Linked DNA regions of Homo sapiens: regions 1 and 3 are each linked to region 2. The links come from fine-mapping of genetic effects on gene expression. A gene starts in region 2. Each other region holds a variant in brackets. All regions are shown on one strand. Distances are from middle to middle. Region 1 holds the start of LINC02074 (long intergenic non-protein coding RNA 2074). Region 2 holds the start of RPL38 (ribosomal protein L38). Region 3 overlaps LOC105371888 (a long non-coding RNA gene).

Evidence for each region. PIP is the estimated chance that this variant, and not a neighbour inherited with it, causes the effect.
Region 1: its variant is fine-mapped to the expression of RPL38 in whole blood (INTERVAL, PIP above 0.99).
Region 3: its variant is fine-mapped to the expression of RPL38 in whole blood (INTERVAL, PIP above 0.99).

Annotation. Positions count from the first base shown.
Region 1 is chr17:74,110,255-74,115,706 of GRCh38, reverse strand. It overlaps LINC02074 (long intergenic non-protein coding RNA 2074), which reads left to right and starts at 2,808. Exons shown (of 5, transcript NR_184085.1): 1 at 2,808-3,061. The variant C/T (reference allele first, on the strand shown) is at 3,272.
Region 2 is chr17:74,201,228-74,206,679 of GRCh38, reverse strand. It overlaps RPL38 (ribosomal protein L38), which reads right to left and starts at 3,002. Exons shown (of 5, transcript NM_000999.4): 1 at 2,935-3,002; 2 at 2,722-2,762; 3 at 2,490-2,550. The coding sequence starts at 2,724. RefSeq lists enhancers at 1,246-1,749, 1,750-2,254, 3,263-3,766.
Region 3 is chr17:73,933,637-73,939,088 of GRCh38, reverse strand. The region is part of intron 5 of LOC105371888 (a long non-coding RNA gene); the gene reads left to right. LOC107985081 (a long non-coding RNA gene) reads right to left here. Exons shown (of 3, transcript XR_001752999.1): 3 at 5,443-5,452. Among named protein-coding and RNA genes, the nearest start is that of LINC00469, 110 kb to the right of the region's middle. The variant C/T (reference allele first, on the strand shown) is at 2,820.

The DNA of each region.
Region 1 (5,452 bases), 91 kb after region 2:
AATCAAACCTCAGCCCATGGGCAGGGGCCCGTGGGAAAATGCCTTAGTCTGCGGTCTTCCAGAGGAACCATTACAAGGCACCCCATGCCTGGCTTTGCAGAGGGGTCCCAGTGGGGTTGAGTCCCATTGTCCACAGTAGTGACAAGCCCAAGAATGCACCCCTCCTTGCTTTTCTCCCTTCCGAGTCTCACTCTTCCTGCCCCTCACTCCTGCTTCCTGGGGTCATCTCCCAAATAAAACACTTGCACCCAAGTCTTCGCTTCAGGACCAGCATCTCCAGTTTGTCTGGGGTGTGGAGAGGACTCTACATATGCTGCAGGATGAGGAGACCAAGCACTGTCCCCTCCAGCATCCACTTCCTCCTCACCGCCCCCCACCCCAAATAGAGCGACAGCATAGCTGGACCACAGATCTGCCTGAGACAGGCCTGCTAGTGACGGCCCAAGGAGGATGCGCAGACCAGCTCCACTGGCTCCCCAGCTTCCCAGTTCGGAGCCAGCTTTGCTCCGCTGTCCAGCTTTGCAGAGAAGTGATGGATTGTGTGGGGAGGTGGCGGTGATGGTGGGGAAGGCTAGGAACAGAGCCCTCTACTGTGGTGAGCAGGCCCTTTCATGGTGCAGCATGGGGTCTCCAGGAGCCTGAGGGGCACTGCACAAACTCCGGGTTGGCCCGGGGGAGGCTGAGCACCAGCCTGAAGACTCACCACCCTGGTCAGGAGCAGCTGGCAGCAAGACCACACCCTGATGGGCAGGCCAGGCAAAGCTTGAGGCTGGAGAACCCAAGGTTGGGAGCTTGACTGAAATTGGGGGTGTCTTTGATCACCTGTTGAACTGCTACACCATCGGAAGTGGCTTATCCACTGGGGGATTCCCTCCTTGCCTACTCAGCGCCTTGCAGGTGACAGGTGCTGAAATCAGTGCAAACAGAAATGAGAGGATCCCCAAATCAAAACCAGGAAATATTCCTGCCACTCAGCAGCTCTCCTTCCCGCTCCCCGGAGACAGGTGGCAGAACTCCCTATTATTGTCTTTGGGGGCAAATTGAGCCTGGGGCAGAGGAGGGAGAGAGAAAGACAGCTCAACTTGGGGTGGCAGGTCACAGATTATGTCCTGATTGTAAATGTCTGACCCCTGGCCCACCAGCTCTCCGTGTAACCCTCTTCCCCAAACAACCATCTCCTGATTTTCCTGTATCCCCGTCCCGTCTCCACCTCCCGCCTGCCCCTGCCCCCACCCCCTCCCCAGTTCAGATCTGCCTGGAGGCCTGGATGGCGACCATATGTTTAAGATGTTCCACTGCTGCTGTTGAGAGCCAGAAGGGCTGCCTGGGAGAAGGCACTCAGTCAAAGCTGTGTTTATATACACAAGGGCCGGCGTCTTTTTATTATGCATAATTATACGCTTCTTAATGTACAGGCATTTCGAGCCATTTTTCCTTCCTTGGTGAAGTCGCAGCAGAGGCGGGTGTGAGTCCGGGTGCTTGGGGGCCGGGAGATGGCTGCTCTTGTCTCCTTAACTCGGGGGTGCTGAGCCCTGAGCATGGCGGGTCCCTCGACCGATCAGCGTGCGAGGTCGCTCTGACCGAGAGAACGAATTCTTCCAAGGGGATCGGGGAGCCGGGACGCGGTGGTACATCGTGGAAATGTTGTAGATCATGAGGTGAAGCCCTCTCTCTCCCTCTTTGTCTTTGAGCCAAAGCCTCAGATACGCACTCCTGCCCTCATCCTGAAAGAAAATGTTAGATCCTTCCTACAAAGCATTGTTTTACATCTATACCCAGCGATTCTCCTCTTCTTTCTAAATTTCACAAACTTAGACTCTGAAAACCTGACATTGAGAGGTGACAGCATGCTGGCAGCCCTCACAGCCCTCGCTCGCTCTTGGTGCCTCCTCGGCCTCGGCGCCCACTGTGGCCGCGCTTGAGGAGCCCTTCAGCCCGCTGCTGCACTGTGGGAGCCCCTTCCTGGGATGGTGGAGGCTGGAGCCGGCTCCCTCAGGCTGCGGGGAGGTGTGGAGCAAGAGGCACGGGGGCTAACCGGGGCTGCGCACAGCGCTTGCTGGTAGAGTTCCCCGGGCGTGGGTTTGGCGGGTCCCGCACTCGGAGCGGCCGGCCGACAGTGAGGGGCTTAGCACCCGGGCCAGCAGCTGCGGAGGGTGCGTCGGGTCCTCCAGCAGTGCTGGCCCACCGGCGCTGCGCTCGATTTCTCGCAGGGCCTTAACTGCCTCCCCGCGGGGCAGGGCTCGGTACCTGCAGCCTGCCATGCCTGAGCCTCGCCCCTGCCCTCGCCCCCGCCCCCGCCCCCGCCGTGGGCTACTGCGCGGTCCGAGCCTCCCTGACAAGCGCCGCGCCCTGCTCCGCTGCGCCCAGTCCCATCTACCGCCCAAGGGCTGAGGAGTGCGGGCGAACGGCGCCGGGCGGGCAGGCGGCTCCACTGGGTGAAGCCAACTGGGCTCCTGAATCTGGTGGGGACTTGGAGAATCTTTATGTCTAGCTCAGGGATTGTGAATGCACCAATCGGCACTCTGTATCTAGCTCAAGGTTTGTAAATGCACCAATCAGCACTCTGTGTCTAGCTCAGGGTTTGTAAATACACCAATCGACACTGTGTATCTAGCTAATCTAGTGGGGATGTGGAGAACTTTTGTGTCTAGCTCAGGGATTGTAAACGCACCAATCAGCACCCTGTCAAAACGGACCAATCAGCTCTCTGTAAAACAGACCAATGGGCTCTCTGTAAAATGGACCAATCAGCAGGATGTGGGTGGGGCCAGATAAGAGAATAAAAGCAGGCTGCCGGAGCTAGCGGTAGCAACCCGTTTGGTTATCTTTCTGTGCTGTGGAAGGTTTGTTCTTTCACTCTGCACTATTTTGCAATAAATATTGCTATTGCTCACTTTGGGTTTATATTGCCTTTATGAGCTGTAACACTCACCATGAAGGTCTGCAGCTTTACTCTTGAAGCTTAGCGAGACCACTAACCCACCAGAAGGAAGAAACTCCGGACACGCCGCCTTTAAGAACTGTAATACTCAGTGCGAGGGTTCACGGCTTCATTCTTGAGGTTAGTAAGACCAAGAATCCACAAATTCCAGACACAACATGGTAATATATGGGGTCACTATCCTTATAGTGAGGGTTAAGCTTTAAATCATCACAATGAAAGCTTTTTGTTTCTCTAGCGTAGCAGCAAGGGAGAATAAGGCCTCTGGAGTCCAGGACTTGGGTTCAAATCCAAGCTCCACCGTAGCTGTGTGACCTGGGTTTATCATTT[C/T]GCCTTTTTGAATTTCGGTTTTCATTGAAATAATGGGAATAACATTAGTTCCTATATCATGGAAAGTACCTAGCACGGTCCTTGGTGCCTTGTAAATGCTTGGAAAATTATCCTTTCTCCTGTGGTGATGGTTCTAATAGACTGAGTTTTATGAGAGCAAGAGTGGGTGTCTCCCATCCACTGCTTTCTTTTTGATACCCTGAACTCTGCTGATGGCAGCAAACATTTGCTGAATCGTTGTTGAACAAGGAATGAATGAACACCGGGTTTGGAATCAGGGTCTTTTTTTGAGACAAGAGTCTCACTCTGTCTCCCAGGCTGGAGTGTGGGGGCTCCATCTCGGCTCACTGCAAGCTCCACCTCGGAGTCACGCCGTTCTCCTGCCTCAGCCTCCCAAGTAGCTGGGGCTACAGGCGCCCACCACCATGCCTGGCTGATTTTTTTGTATTTTTAGTAGAGACCGGGTTTCACCATGTTAGCTAGGATGGTCTCAATTTCCTGACCTCGTGATCTGCCTGCCTTGGCCTCCCAGAGTGCTGGAATTACAGGTGTGAGCCACCGCACCCGGCCAGGGTCTGTGTTTCATTTACCGACTGTGGGGCCAGGCCGTACAAGACCTCTGAGCTCCACAGATGCAAAGTGAAGAAGTTATGGATTGGCCCCATAGGCATGTGACGATGAGATTAACTGAGAGGCGCTGAGATAAAGCACGTGAAGTGTTTAGCTTGGTACTCGGTGTCAGGTCATGTCCAATTTTATTAGGAGCTTATATTCCATTCTGTAGCAGCTTGCTATTTTTATTTTTTTTTACTTTTTTTTTGAGACAGTCTTGCTCTGTCGCCCAGGCTGGAGTTCAGTGGCGCCATGTTGGCTCACTGCAAGCTCCGCTTGTCGGGTTCGCGCCATTCTTCTGCCTCCGAGTAGCCGCTTGGCTAATTTTTCTATTTTTGTTTAGTAGAGATGGGGTTTCACTGTGTTAGCCAGTATGGTCTCGAGAGATCTCCTGACCTCGTGATCCACCCGCCTCAGCCTCCCAAAGTGCTGAGATTACAGCGTGAGCCACTGTGCCCGGCCGCAGCTTGCTATTTGAAAGCATTTTTATTTCCATCACCCCATGTGATCTTCAAAACAACCTGTGGGCTGGGCAGTCTTCATCCCACAAATAAGAGGGTTTCAAGCCGGCCAGTGGAATCCCAGCGCTTTGGGAGGCGAAGCAGGGGGATCGCTTGAACCCAGGTGTTTGAGATCAGCCTGGGCAACATAACAAGATCCTTTAACTATAAAATTAAAAAAACCAGTTTCAGAAGGGTGAAATGACTTGCCAGCCACAGTGTCCAAGCCCCATGGCACTACCCGCCCCCTACCTATCCCGCCTTCCTGTTTGTCACTTTTGTTCCAATGCAACTTATTTGGTCCTTTGAGAGTGTCCCAGACTTTTAAATGTAGGAGATGCTGGAGCTCTGTGGTGTACATAAATCTTTCTTTGAAGCCTGCTTCCACCAGGAAGGCCCCCTAGGATGAAAAGACTTAACAGTCCAAAATGTTATCAGCCCACTTTGGAGAGCCCTTTTCTGGGCCCCTACCCTAGTGGGGAAGCACACACAGACTGCCAGGCTGTCATTCATACGGAGTTCACCCTGGGAGGAGCAGACAGATTACTGTGTGTGGGGCAGGGCACTTCCCACACACTTGCGTGGGGTTTCGAGCGGGGACGGTGGCCAGGGGCCCTGTGTATACACATTTTTTTTGTTTGAGACAGGGTCTTGCTCTGTCTCCCAGGCTGGAATGCGGTGGCGTGATCACGGCTCACTGCACCCTTGATCTCAACAAGCAATCCTTTCATCTCAGCCCCTCAAGTAGCTGGGACCACAGGCACGTGCCACCAGGCGTGGCTCATTTTTTTTTTTATTTTTGTAGAGACAGGGATATCCCTATGTTGTCCAGGCTGATTTTTGAAATGTGCTCAAGCGATTCTCCCACCTTGGCCTCCCAAAGTGTTGGGATTACAGGCATGAGCCGCCGTGCCCGGCCAACGCATATGCTCTGTGCTGACAGATTTCTTCTGAGCTAACAGATGTTGTCCTTTGACCCATATTGACCCTGTTGGAACACCCTAAATATTATTTAGCTGTCTCTCACCAAAACATTACAAGTTAGGCAGTTAGAGCTGTTTTTCAGATT
Region 2 (5,452 bases):
CATGCTTGAGGACATGTGAAGAGAAGCCAGTCACAAAAGGTCAAATATGCAATAGCAGACCCACTTGTATGGGGTATCCAGAGCAGTCACATTCAGGGACAAATTGGAAGGTGGTTGCCAGGGGCTGGGGAAGAATGGGGAGCTGGTGTTTAACAGAGGGAGTTTCAGTTTGGGAAGATAAAGTTCTGGAGATGGGCGGTGATGGTGGCAGCTGCTCAACAATGTGTATTTACTGAATGCCACTGAACTGTACAATTATGCTTTGTTGCCCAGCCCGGAGTGCAGTAGCATAATCGTGGCTCACTATAGCCTCAATTTCCTGGATTCAAGCAATCCTACCTCAGCCTCCTGAGTAGCTAGGACCACCAGCACACGCCCGGCTAACTTTTTTCTTTTATAGAGACAGGGTCTCACTATGATGCCCAGGCTAGTCTCATCCATCTGCCTCAGTCTCCCAAAGTGCTGGGATTACAGATGGGAACCACCATACCCAGTGTAAATGGTAACTTTTACGCTATGCCTATTACACGTTAAAAATTAATACAACCATTTTAAAAAGTTTTTTCAACAAACAGCTACTGACACTTTACTGTCCCCAGGGGACTGTGACCACTACCTTTAAAGCCACATCATCTAAAATGAAGGTTCCCAATTTTTTTTGTGAGACAGTCTCGCTCTGTCACCCAGGCTGGAGTGCAGTGAGACAATCTCAGCTCACTGCAACCTCCGTCTCCTTGGTTCAACTGATTCTCCTGCCTCAGCCTCCTGAGTAGCTGGGACTGCAGGCGTGTGCCACCATGCCTGGCTAATTTTTTTATTTTTAGTAGAAATGGGGTTTTGCCATGTCGCCCAGGTTGGTCTTGAACTCCTGGTTCAAGCGATCTGTCCGCTTTGGCCTCCCAAAGTGCTGGAATTATAGGCATGAGCCACCACGCCCGGACCACCACCCTTTTAAAACACAATCAAACGGTGGTGTCGTGTTTAACTTGCTGAGAAGGGTAAGTTACCTGCAGGTAGAGTTGGGCTTCAAACTAGGCAGTGACCCCATATGGTCTGAAATAAAACTGACCTGATAACCTCATCTCTTTACACAAAACACTAGCCAACAGTCATCATTCCCACCAGATGCTATTTGTCCCCACAGGTGGTCACTACCTCAAAGGTGACAGCCTGTTTTGGGTAATGGGGACACAAATATGACCCCCATCTCTGCCTACCCCCAACTCATTGAAAGACTCTCCCTGTACACCAACCACCGTCTGGCACCACGGCTGGCAGAGCATTAGAGACGGCTGGTGTCTTAGCCCACCTTAACAGGCCTGTCCCATGCAACCTCACTTCCACATGTGACCTGATTCTCAGTCAGCTGAAAAAAGATGACTGGGTTAAAGTAACAACATAACTCAAGACCTAGCTTGTATCAAACACAAGCCCCCCCAATCTCCTTCAAGTATCACAAAGGAGTAACACAACTACCTCTCACACTTGGTGTAAAAATTTAAGTAAGTGGGCAGCAGAGATTGGCACCTATCCATCGAAAACCTGCTGTTTAAGGTTTTTCATTAATCACCTTCTTTCCCCTGTATGTACAAGCTGGGAAACAGACCTATGACAGTCCAACTTAAACTCTGTGACTTTACAATGGTGGTAATGCGATATACATTCAGTAGAAGCCCTGCTTCAAATTTTGATCTTGGCGGGGCACAGTGGCTCACACCTGTAATCCCAGCACTCTGGGAGGCGGAGGCAGGTGGATCATCTGAGGTTAGGAGTTCGAGACCAGCCTGGCCAACATGGTGAAACTCTGTCTCTACCAAAAACACAAAAATCAGCTAGGCATGGTGGCGCGCCCAGCTACTTTGAGGCAGGGGGATCGCTTGAACCTGGGAGGCGGTAATTGCAGTGAGCCAAGATCGCACCACTGCAATCCAGCCTGGGCGACAGAGCCAGACTGTCTCAAAGAAAAAAAAAAATTTTTTTAAATATTTTTCTGGATTAGATAGGTATGATACCTTCTGACACTGGCCAGCGACCACAGGATCACGAGGTAAACGACCATACTACACAGTGTGCCGTGCTCGATACATTACATGCAAATATCCAGCACTTTATTACAAAATGGATTTTGTGTTAAGATTTTGCACAACTGCAGAGAACCTAAACAGTGTTTATGGGACGTGTGTTTTGAGGCTTTCGCGGAGTGGAGATTCCGTTCCGACAATTTACTATATTATACGAAAGAAAACTGAACTCAGGGCGGCCTCTGAGATGATCGCGATTAGCTAAAGATGGTCCTAGAAATTCCAGGGCCTCAACGTGCCCCCCACAGGTCTTTCTCATGGGAAACAGGATGAAACCACTGCTCCCAGAGGGCCAGGCACACACCCAGACGGCCTAACCGTCTCCTGCCTGACATTCCGGGGAAGACGCTCCCGGAGCGGTGCCAGGCTAGGCACCGCTCTTCTTGAACCTTCGGAGCAACCACTTACATTTGGCATCCTTTCGTCGGGCTGTGAGCAGGAAGTCCTTGATTTCCTCAATTTTCCGAGGCTGCAACACAAAGGAAGCGGGTGAACAGAGAGGAAAGAGACACGTCTCCCGGCGATGGCCCAGTCCACCAGCTTCTCCCGGCCTCAGGAGATCCTTGGGAGGCTCTCTCGCCCTCGCCCCGGGGCCCCACGAGCCCACCCCGGGAAGGCGCCAGGCAGGGACTGTACTCACCATGGCGACGAGGCGCGCTGGGCTCTGGCGCGGACCAGGACCTGCGGGAAACAGTCCTCGGCGTTAACACGGCGCGGGGGCTGGCAGCGAACCCCGTTTTCCCGCTCTCCCCCGAAATATCGGCCCCATCGCACTCCCCTTCTCCTCCCCGACACCCTCCACGCGGACCTGGGGTCCCCAGATTTCACCTGGCAGTGGATTGCCCCAGATTACCTTTCTCACCCACGTATCACCCTAGAGACACTCACAGCAAGCAGCAACCGGGGAAAAGGACGAAAAAGAACGAGACTTCCGTTTCCGGGCAGTTAAACCCTCCCAACGGAGGAAACTGGGTACGGTGCCTGCCGAGGATCAAGACTCATGTAGGCGTTCGCACTTCCAATTTCAGCAGCCCTGCCCCCTTGTGGTCGAAGTCAACAGTGCAGCTCCAAGAATGGAATGGACCATCCTGGCTGCCGCCCTCCCTCCGCCTCCCTCCTCTCGCTCCTCCCCATCCCTTCCTCCTAGGACCCCCGCCTCTTCCCCGTCCACCCCTTCCTGTCTTCCCCCGCAACCCCTCAGACCCCAGCCTGGCTTTGCTAGGTTTTAGCTCAGATTCAGTTTGAAGAGCTAACGCTTATTCTCCACGGCTTTCATTGGACCTGCGCAGGGGCATCCACACAGAAAATTCTTCATTCAATGGCAGGGACCCTCGTGTGCACCTTGTAGAACCTGTTGTTCTGGCGCCTCACGTTTTCTTCCCGTCTCCTTTTTGGCACCTGAACCTGTCATGACCAGGGCCCTGGGCTCTTCTTTCCATAAGAGGGAGCGTTCCTGCTTGCTGCTTCCAATTCCCTTAGGAATTGGTGTACAATGAAAGCAAGTTAAGGCCGGGCGCGGTGGCTCACGCTTATAACCCCAGCACTGGGGGAGGCCGAGGCAGGCGGATCGCTTGAGGCCAGGAGTTCGAGAGCAGCCTGGGCAACCTAGTAAGACCTCCCCCCCCCCATCTCTAGCAATAATGATAATAATAATAATACTTCCAAAAGCTGTCGCAGCGCTGCCCCTGGCTAAGTGTCTCACCCCTAGGGCTGATGGTGAGTGGGAGTGCTCCTGCTCTTGCGGGGTCTCACCGCGGCCCCAGAGGGGAGAGGTGGACTCAGGAGTTGAACCCCTGCTGGGCAGATTCCCCAGCCCAGGCTCCGGCCACTTCCTGGGGAGGCTTGGGAAGCCTGGGGAGGGCAGCGTTCCTTTCTCCCCCTAACATCCTTTAGGTTAGACTCTGAGCAACCTGCGGTTATCGATTTTATTTTTATCCTCCATTTTTATTTTATCTCCAACCTCCCTACAAATGTCTACATTTTATTATATTTGTTTCCCCAAAATTTAATAACCACACGGCAGAATGTAATTGCTTCGTGCTTATTATTACAGAGCGGCCCTCCTGAAGGGAAAGAACACTTTGCCATGAGCTTTACTTAGAACTTATTTAACTTAACCTTCCTTTCTTCCTCCCTCCTGCCCTTCCATTAACAAGCTCAGGCTGAGCACCTTCCTGGGGGTGCTGGAGATACAGGAACCAATAGACCTTGCTGCAGAGAGATCACAAAAATATTGTAATAACACTGAAGAGTCTTTTAAAGAAGCTGAACGATGTCTCTGCAACTGTAAATGTGTCGGGGTTCTAGCAGTGGGAAAAGTTAATTGGCAGAAGCCTAATTTTAGATGTCTGAAGGTCGGATCCGATCTGAGAAGCACGAGTGCTTCAGCTCTGACCTGAGAAGGATTTTCCCATACCTCAGAGCCCGGCTTTGCCAGCCCTTCCCATCTCAGGCGATGCCTTTCTGGTCTTTTCTACCCCACTGCTCCTCCACAAGCAACCACCCTTTCAGCCAAGCCGAGGGGCACTTTTGGGCACTTTCTGCCCTCCAGGTATTTGCTCTGCTGTCCACTCTGATGCCAAGTGCCACTGGTCCTTCCGAGCTCAGCTCCCGCCTCCCCTTTTTCAGGCAGGACCCTTCACCCTTGACTTATGTTGCTTGCCGCTCATACAGTGGTTCCTTGCAATCACTTCTCCGTAGGCTGCGTGGAGGTGTTTAACTTTTCATACATGCGCACCACTCTTTTTATTTTTAATTTTTTAAAACTTTTTTAGAGACATGGTCTCCCTAGGTTGCCCAAGCTGGTTTCGAACTCCTGGGCTCAAGGGATCCTCCTGCCTCGGCCCCCCAAAGTGCTAGGATAACAGGTGTGAGCCACTACGCCCCACCTTACCACTTTTCCTTGAAGGCAAGGACAGGGCTCAGCATTCTGTCGATAACTCTCGAAGTGCAGTACCCATCTGTACAGTAAGTGCTCAATGCTAACATTGCAGGATGATCCGGCTGGATGCGGCATCTGAGATCACTCACCATATAAAGGGGTGGTGGATGGAGGGAGGAATTCAGGGAGAGCCAGAAGGAGACACTGACGTGCCTGAAGCAGTGCCTGGCATGTAGTAGGTCCAAAAACTATTTGTTGAATGAATGACTGGTGCTTCTTGCCTCACTGCCGGCCCGACAGGACAAGGACGGGGATAGAAGGAGGAGCTGCACCTCCCTTTTGGCAGCGATCCCAGGGAGACAGATGTTCACCCTCTTGAGTTGTATAATTTAAGGGACCATAGACGTGTAGTAGCAAAACACAATGGCAAATTTGTTCAAGTACCAAAGACCTCCAGCTCCCCAAGGGGGACAAATAGCAAAATAAGCTG
Region 3 (5,452 bases), 270 kb after region 2:
CATTTGTGTGTTTGCATGCAAGGCGGAGCTCTGCAGGGCTGGCATGCAGTTTGCTCTTTCCTGTAGGTTAAACACTTCTCTTTCACTCTGGTTTACACCAGAGTTTGTTTGTTGCGTGGCCCAACCCTCCCATTTCCTAACTTGCACAGGTACATTTCTGGCCCTCCAAAGTGGAAACCTGCTTGTTCTTCAATGAACAAAGGGGCTCTTGCTGAATGTGTGTGTGGCCCTGGAGTTGAAATCCATCTCCTTGACCTTGGAGGCTGGTTTTTCCCAACTCAGGGAAAATTGCTAAGAGTCCAGCAGCAGGCTCAGTGTCTTTTTGGAGTTTTCAGAGCTAGGATGCTCCTCTCTCTCAGGCTCTTTAAGAACCTTCCAGCATCCACCTCCAAGGGGGAGGTTTGGCATTTCCATATCCTTGGCTGGCAAATTGTAAATTTGGATATGAGCAGAAAATATAGTGACATCAAGGTTATGTGGTCTGCAGCTGACAAGATGGATAGCCCTCAGCTAGGCAGCATTTCCCAGCTTCTTCTTGGTTTGCACTCTCTGCACCTCTCTTTCTTTTAACCTTTTTTTTTTAAGGAAAACATTTTTAGAGACTTTAATAACTGTGGAAGGATGCTGTAAGGCGGGCAGGGAAATTGATCATTTTTATTCGGTTGTGCGTGATAAAATGTAAGTTTGAGCCATGAATCTTCTTACCTTGAGGGAAAAGAACGGTGTGCCTGGCTGTTAATATGACTCCCTTTTTGGAGATTTTAATGAAGGAATCCCGCTCCCCACCGCAGATTAATTCATAGCTGTGGACAGGGCGGGGCTGAGGCGGGAATACACTCTTTCCTCCAATCTAGCAACTGCTGGTTCCGTCTCTCTCCACATCTGCGTGTATTCGCTGTCTATTATTTTTAATCAATGTCTCACCAAACACATATAAAGCTCCCACTGTGTGCAAGACACCATGCCTAGCACCAAGGAGGGGAGATGCTGAGGAGTATCTCAGAGTCCTGTGTAAGTTGCCCAGAAGAGGGCTCCTCTCCAGGCCCTGCCTGTGAGCACCCCAGATACCTCCCCACTTGTCTTGGCCACAGCTATATCCCCCTACTGGAACATGGCAAGAGATGAGGCACACGGCTTGTGTTGGCCACAGGACTCCATTTTGGGTACCCTAAAAGGAAAGGCAGGGCTGCAGTCTCAGTCAGCTTGGGCTTCCATAACAGAATGCCATAGACGTTTATTTCTTACAGTTCTAGAAGCTGGAAGTCCAAGATCAAGGTGCCAGCTGATGTGGGTCCTGGTGAGGCCTCTCTTCCTGGCTTGCAGATGGCCACCTTCTTGCTGTGTCCTCCCGTGGCAAGGAGGGAGGGAGAGAGACTGACAGCGCATGCATGCTCTCTAGTCTTTTCCTTCCTCTTCTTATAAGGCCATTCATTCCATCATAGGGGCCTTACCCTGTGACCTCATCTAACCCTAATCACTTCCCAAAGTCCCCACATCTAAATACCATCCCACTGGAGTGTTAGGGCTTCAATATATGCATTTTGAGGGGACACACATATTCAGTCCGTAACAGACCTGTGTTGTGGAGCTCATTTCCTCTTTCTTCTTCTTAGGGGGTTGAGTATGGTGGAGTTGGAAAGTGTGATGTATGGTGTGGGGAGAGGACAGAAAGCGACCTCTGCTGCCAGGCGGAAAAATGCCCACCCAACTACTCCTGCCACATCAAGTCTGTGGCCAGAGTGTAGGAGGGTTCAGGCCACTGCTACCTCCCGCATCCTTGCCCTAGCATCCCTTCCTCAGGTCCTAATCCTAAACCTCCATCAGCTCCCTGCTTTCTGGATCCCTCCCGCAGCCAGGCCCCTCTCTTGCTGTGGCTCACCAGTCATCTGGACATTGCTGGCAATAAGCTTCCTTAAACATCCATGGTGCACACGCTGCTCTGCAAACAAAGACAGGGCATCCAATTATTCCAAAAACAACCTGTTTCTGTTTGCTTATCTGACTCGGACTGTTTGCCCCTGACATCGCTATTGATCAATTTGAACTTTTCCCCTTCAAGTCCAACATGATTCATAATTTGTGGTTGGGAAAAGCCACCTGGGCAGTGGGCCCCCTGGGACCAGGCCCTGTGCACCCATAATCTCATTTAATGCTCTATGTGGTTGGTATCATGATTTCTATCTGAAAGACAAAGAAAACAGGGGCTGGGGGAAGGTGAGCATTTATCCAAATCTCCCAGCTTATAGGTGATGGTTATCAGAATTTGAACCCAGGTCTGTCTGTTCCAAAGACTGGCCCCTCTCTAATACATTGAGATGCCTCCTGTGTAGGCACCCAGTTTTGATGGTCACCCCAATTCAGAATTGCAATCAGACAACAAACACCAGAGAATACAAAAGGCTGATTGTGACTCTGCGTAGGGAACAAGTGTACCAAGCTGTGCCGACAGTTTGATGGTGGGTCAGTGTGACATCTTGGAAAAAATAGCAGCTGATTATATTTTTCAAATCGACATGTGTTTTTAAAGACTTTTGAATCAGATGTGAGTCAGGAGCATTAGGGCAAAAGTGTAACACTTTTTTTTTTTTTTTTTTTTTGAGACGGAGTTTCGCTCTGTCGCCCAGGCTGGAGTGCAGTGGCGTGATCTCGACTCACTGCAAGCTCCACCTCCCGGGTTCACGCCATTCTCCTGCCTCAGCCTCCCGTGTAGCTGGGACTACAGGCGCACGCCACCATGCCCGGCTAATTTTTGTATTTTTTTTTTTTAGTAGAGACGGGGTTTCACCATGTTAGCCAGGATGGTCTCGATCTCCTGACCT[C/T]GTGATCCGCCCGTCTCGGCCTCCCAAAGTGCTGGGATTACAGGCGTGAGCCACCGCGCCCGGCCAGTGTCACACATTTATATTTGGTGAATGTGGGAAATTTCTCCCATGAAAACAAAGTGAGCAGTCACTCTTGAGGTCTGGGTGCATAAATTATAGTACATTTATACCATGCGATATTATGCCCTATTGAAAACAATTAGAGCAATATTGGAGGACAGAGAGAGAGTTCCCCAAGGTATTGTTGAGTGAGGAAAACAAGATGCAAGAAACTGAATATCATATATTTCTGCAAAACAAATAATGACAAAAGGCTGGCTATACATGTATAAGTGCACACATGTGTATAAGTGAATGCATGTGGGTGTGTATAAAAAGTTACATACATGTATGTACATACATGTCTACCACATGTAGTGTGTGTATGTATATATTTATACAGGATAATATGATCATGAAGAAAAATGTGGAAGGATCCCTACTAGGCTATTAGCATGAATTTCTAGTGGTTATGGGTGGAGGACAGAGGAGAGGTGTCAAGGAAAGTCAAACTAACAGGAAAAAAAACTAAGAGTCTGCACAAACACACACACACACATACACATGAATCATGTAATGACAACATTTATGCATTTAAATAAAGGTATAGGCATTCATGTAAATACATTCAAAGAAAAGTTGTAAGTTATTTTCCTACAGCAACAGAGCACTTACCCCAGAGATCTGCATGAAGGCATGACAGTGAACAGGCCTCTGCAGATCCAGACGGTACAGTCTAGAGGCTGGGGACAGCTACTAGGAAGCCACATCACTGGCTTCCCACTCCCTGCAATGGGAAGGGTTGGTTTATTCCTTGGCTTTACAGCCGGCACAAGGAAGAGGGGTACCTGTGTGATTTGGGGGTCTTCTCCAGCTGCTGCCTTAGAGTCCCCCACCTGGTTCAGGGGTAAGTGAAACAGTAGAAGGGGAAAATAAACTCTTTTCTACTTCTACTAACATTAGGGTAACCGTAACACTGATCATTTAAACAGGGACCACTTTGAGAGTGAAGAGCAGAACTATGAATAATTCAGGTGCAAACCACGACTGTCCCTAGCACACCTGGCTGTAGGGTCACCCTAGCTATAGCTCCTAAATGGGGGGTCTACATTCTAAATTTCACCATCTTCTCCATGCAAATGTGAGTATTAATTGATCCAGAACCCTGTAATTGTTGTAACTGGAGCCCAACAGGACTGAAATTACTCTTAATTATCATCCCATCCCAGGAGGGAGGGTCCTTTTCCCTCAAAGTTACAGAGACACGTGGTGAAACCAAGGGGGACGGGTGTGTGGCTTCCATGGGGCCCTGCTTAACCACAAATGTCAATGCTCTGGGCTGAGCAGGGCTGGGATTCCTGCACATGCTCTGTGTGGTTGGCCTGATCTATAAGAGACTAAATAATGACCAGGCTTGCTGCTAGAGCACTTTGTAGCTGATGTGTCTGGCATCACCAGCTTGGATTACTAAATGGGTACATGCTGATTAATCTACAAATTAGGTTGATGAACCCCCACCCTAGCTGTCTCAAGGATTTGTATATCTCCCCGGTGCCCTTCTTCCCAAGCATCCCTTTGTTAATTCAAGGGATCTACACAGAGACTGGTATTTGGACCAGGGCAGAGAGAAAGATAGAGGGGGAAAGATTATTTTTTCCCAAACTATTAATATCTACTAATCTGAAATGCCATAATTGAGGGCTAGAGGCAGCATTTTTCTTGGCTAGCAGGGGGAAAGCTATTTGAAATGGCCTTGAGAATATGACTAACATGAAGGAAGCAGACTGCAGAGATAAAGATGAAAGAAAGACCCTGATGATACTGTTTGAGCCACTTGCACCCTCTTCCTTGTGCTGGATCTTCAGGAGCACCTGAAGTCTGCTCCCCAAAGTTGGCAGAAAGAATAATGGCCCCCAAAGACATCCACATCCTCACCTCTAGAATCTGTGAATATGCTACCTTACATGACAAAAGGGGTACTGCATATATGATTAAGAATTTTGAGATGGGGAGATTACCCCAGATTATATGGGTTGGCTCAGTGTTATCACAAGGGGAAGCAGAACAGTTAGAGTCAGGGAGGGAGATGTGGCCATGGAAATAAAGGTCAAAGTTATGCCATTGCTGGAAGTGGGCTGTGAGCCAAGGAATTTCAGGCATTCTCAGAACCCAAAAGGCAAGGAATGAATTCTTCCCTACATCTTTTAGAAGGAATGCAGCCTTGCCACCATCTTGGTTTTAGCCACATAAACCCATTTCTGGATTTCTGGCCTCCAGAGCTGCAAAATAACACTTTATGTTGTTTTAATCCACTCACTTTGTGGTAATTTGTTACAACAGCAATTAGAAAACCAATACTCTCAGCTTTCTGGTGGCATGAAGCAAATTTTCTTGAGTTAGACTTGATTTTCCATCATTTGTAACCCCAAGAATCCTGTACTAGTAACCAGCTCCAGGAGGACTAACATCCCTTTCCAGAACAGCCCAACTACGATACTCTCCCAACTTGTCCTTTACCTCAGAAGTCCTATAACTAGGGCTTGAGAGGAACATGGGGACAGATTCGTCAACTTTCTCCTGCAAATGAAAAATCC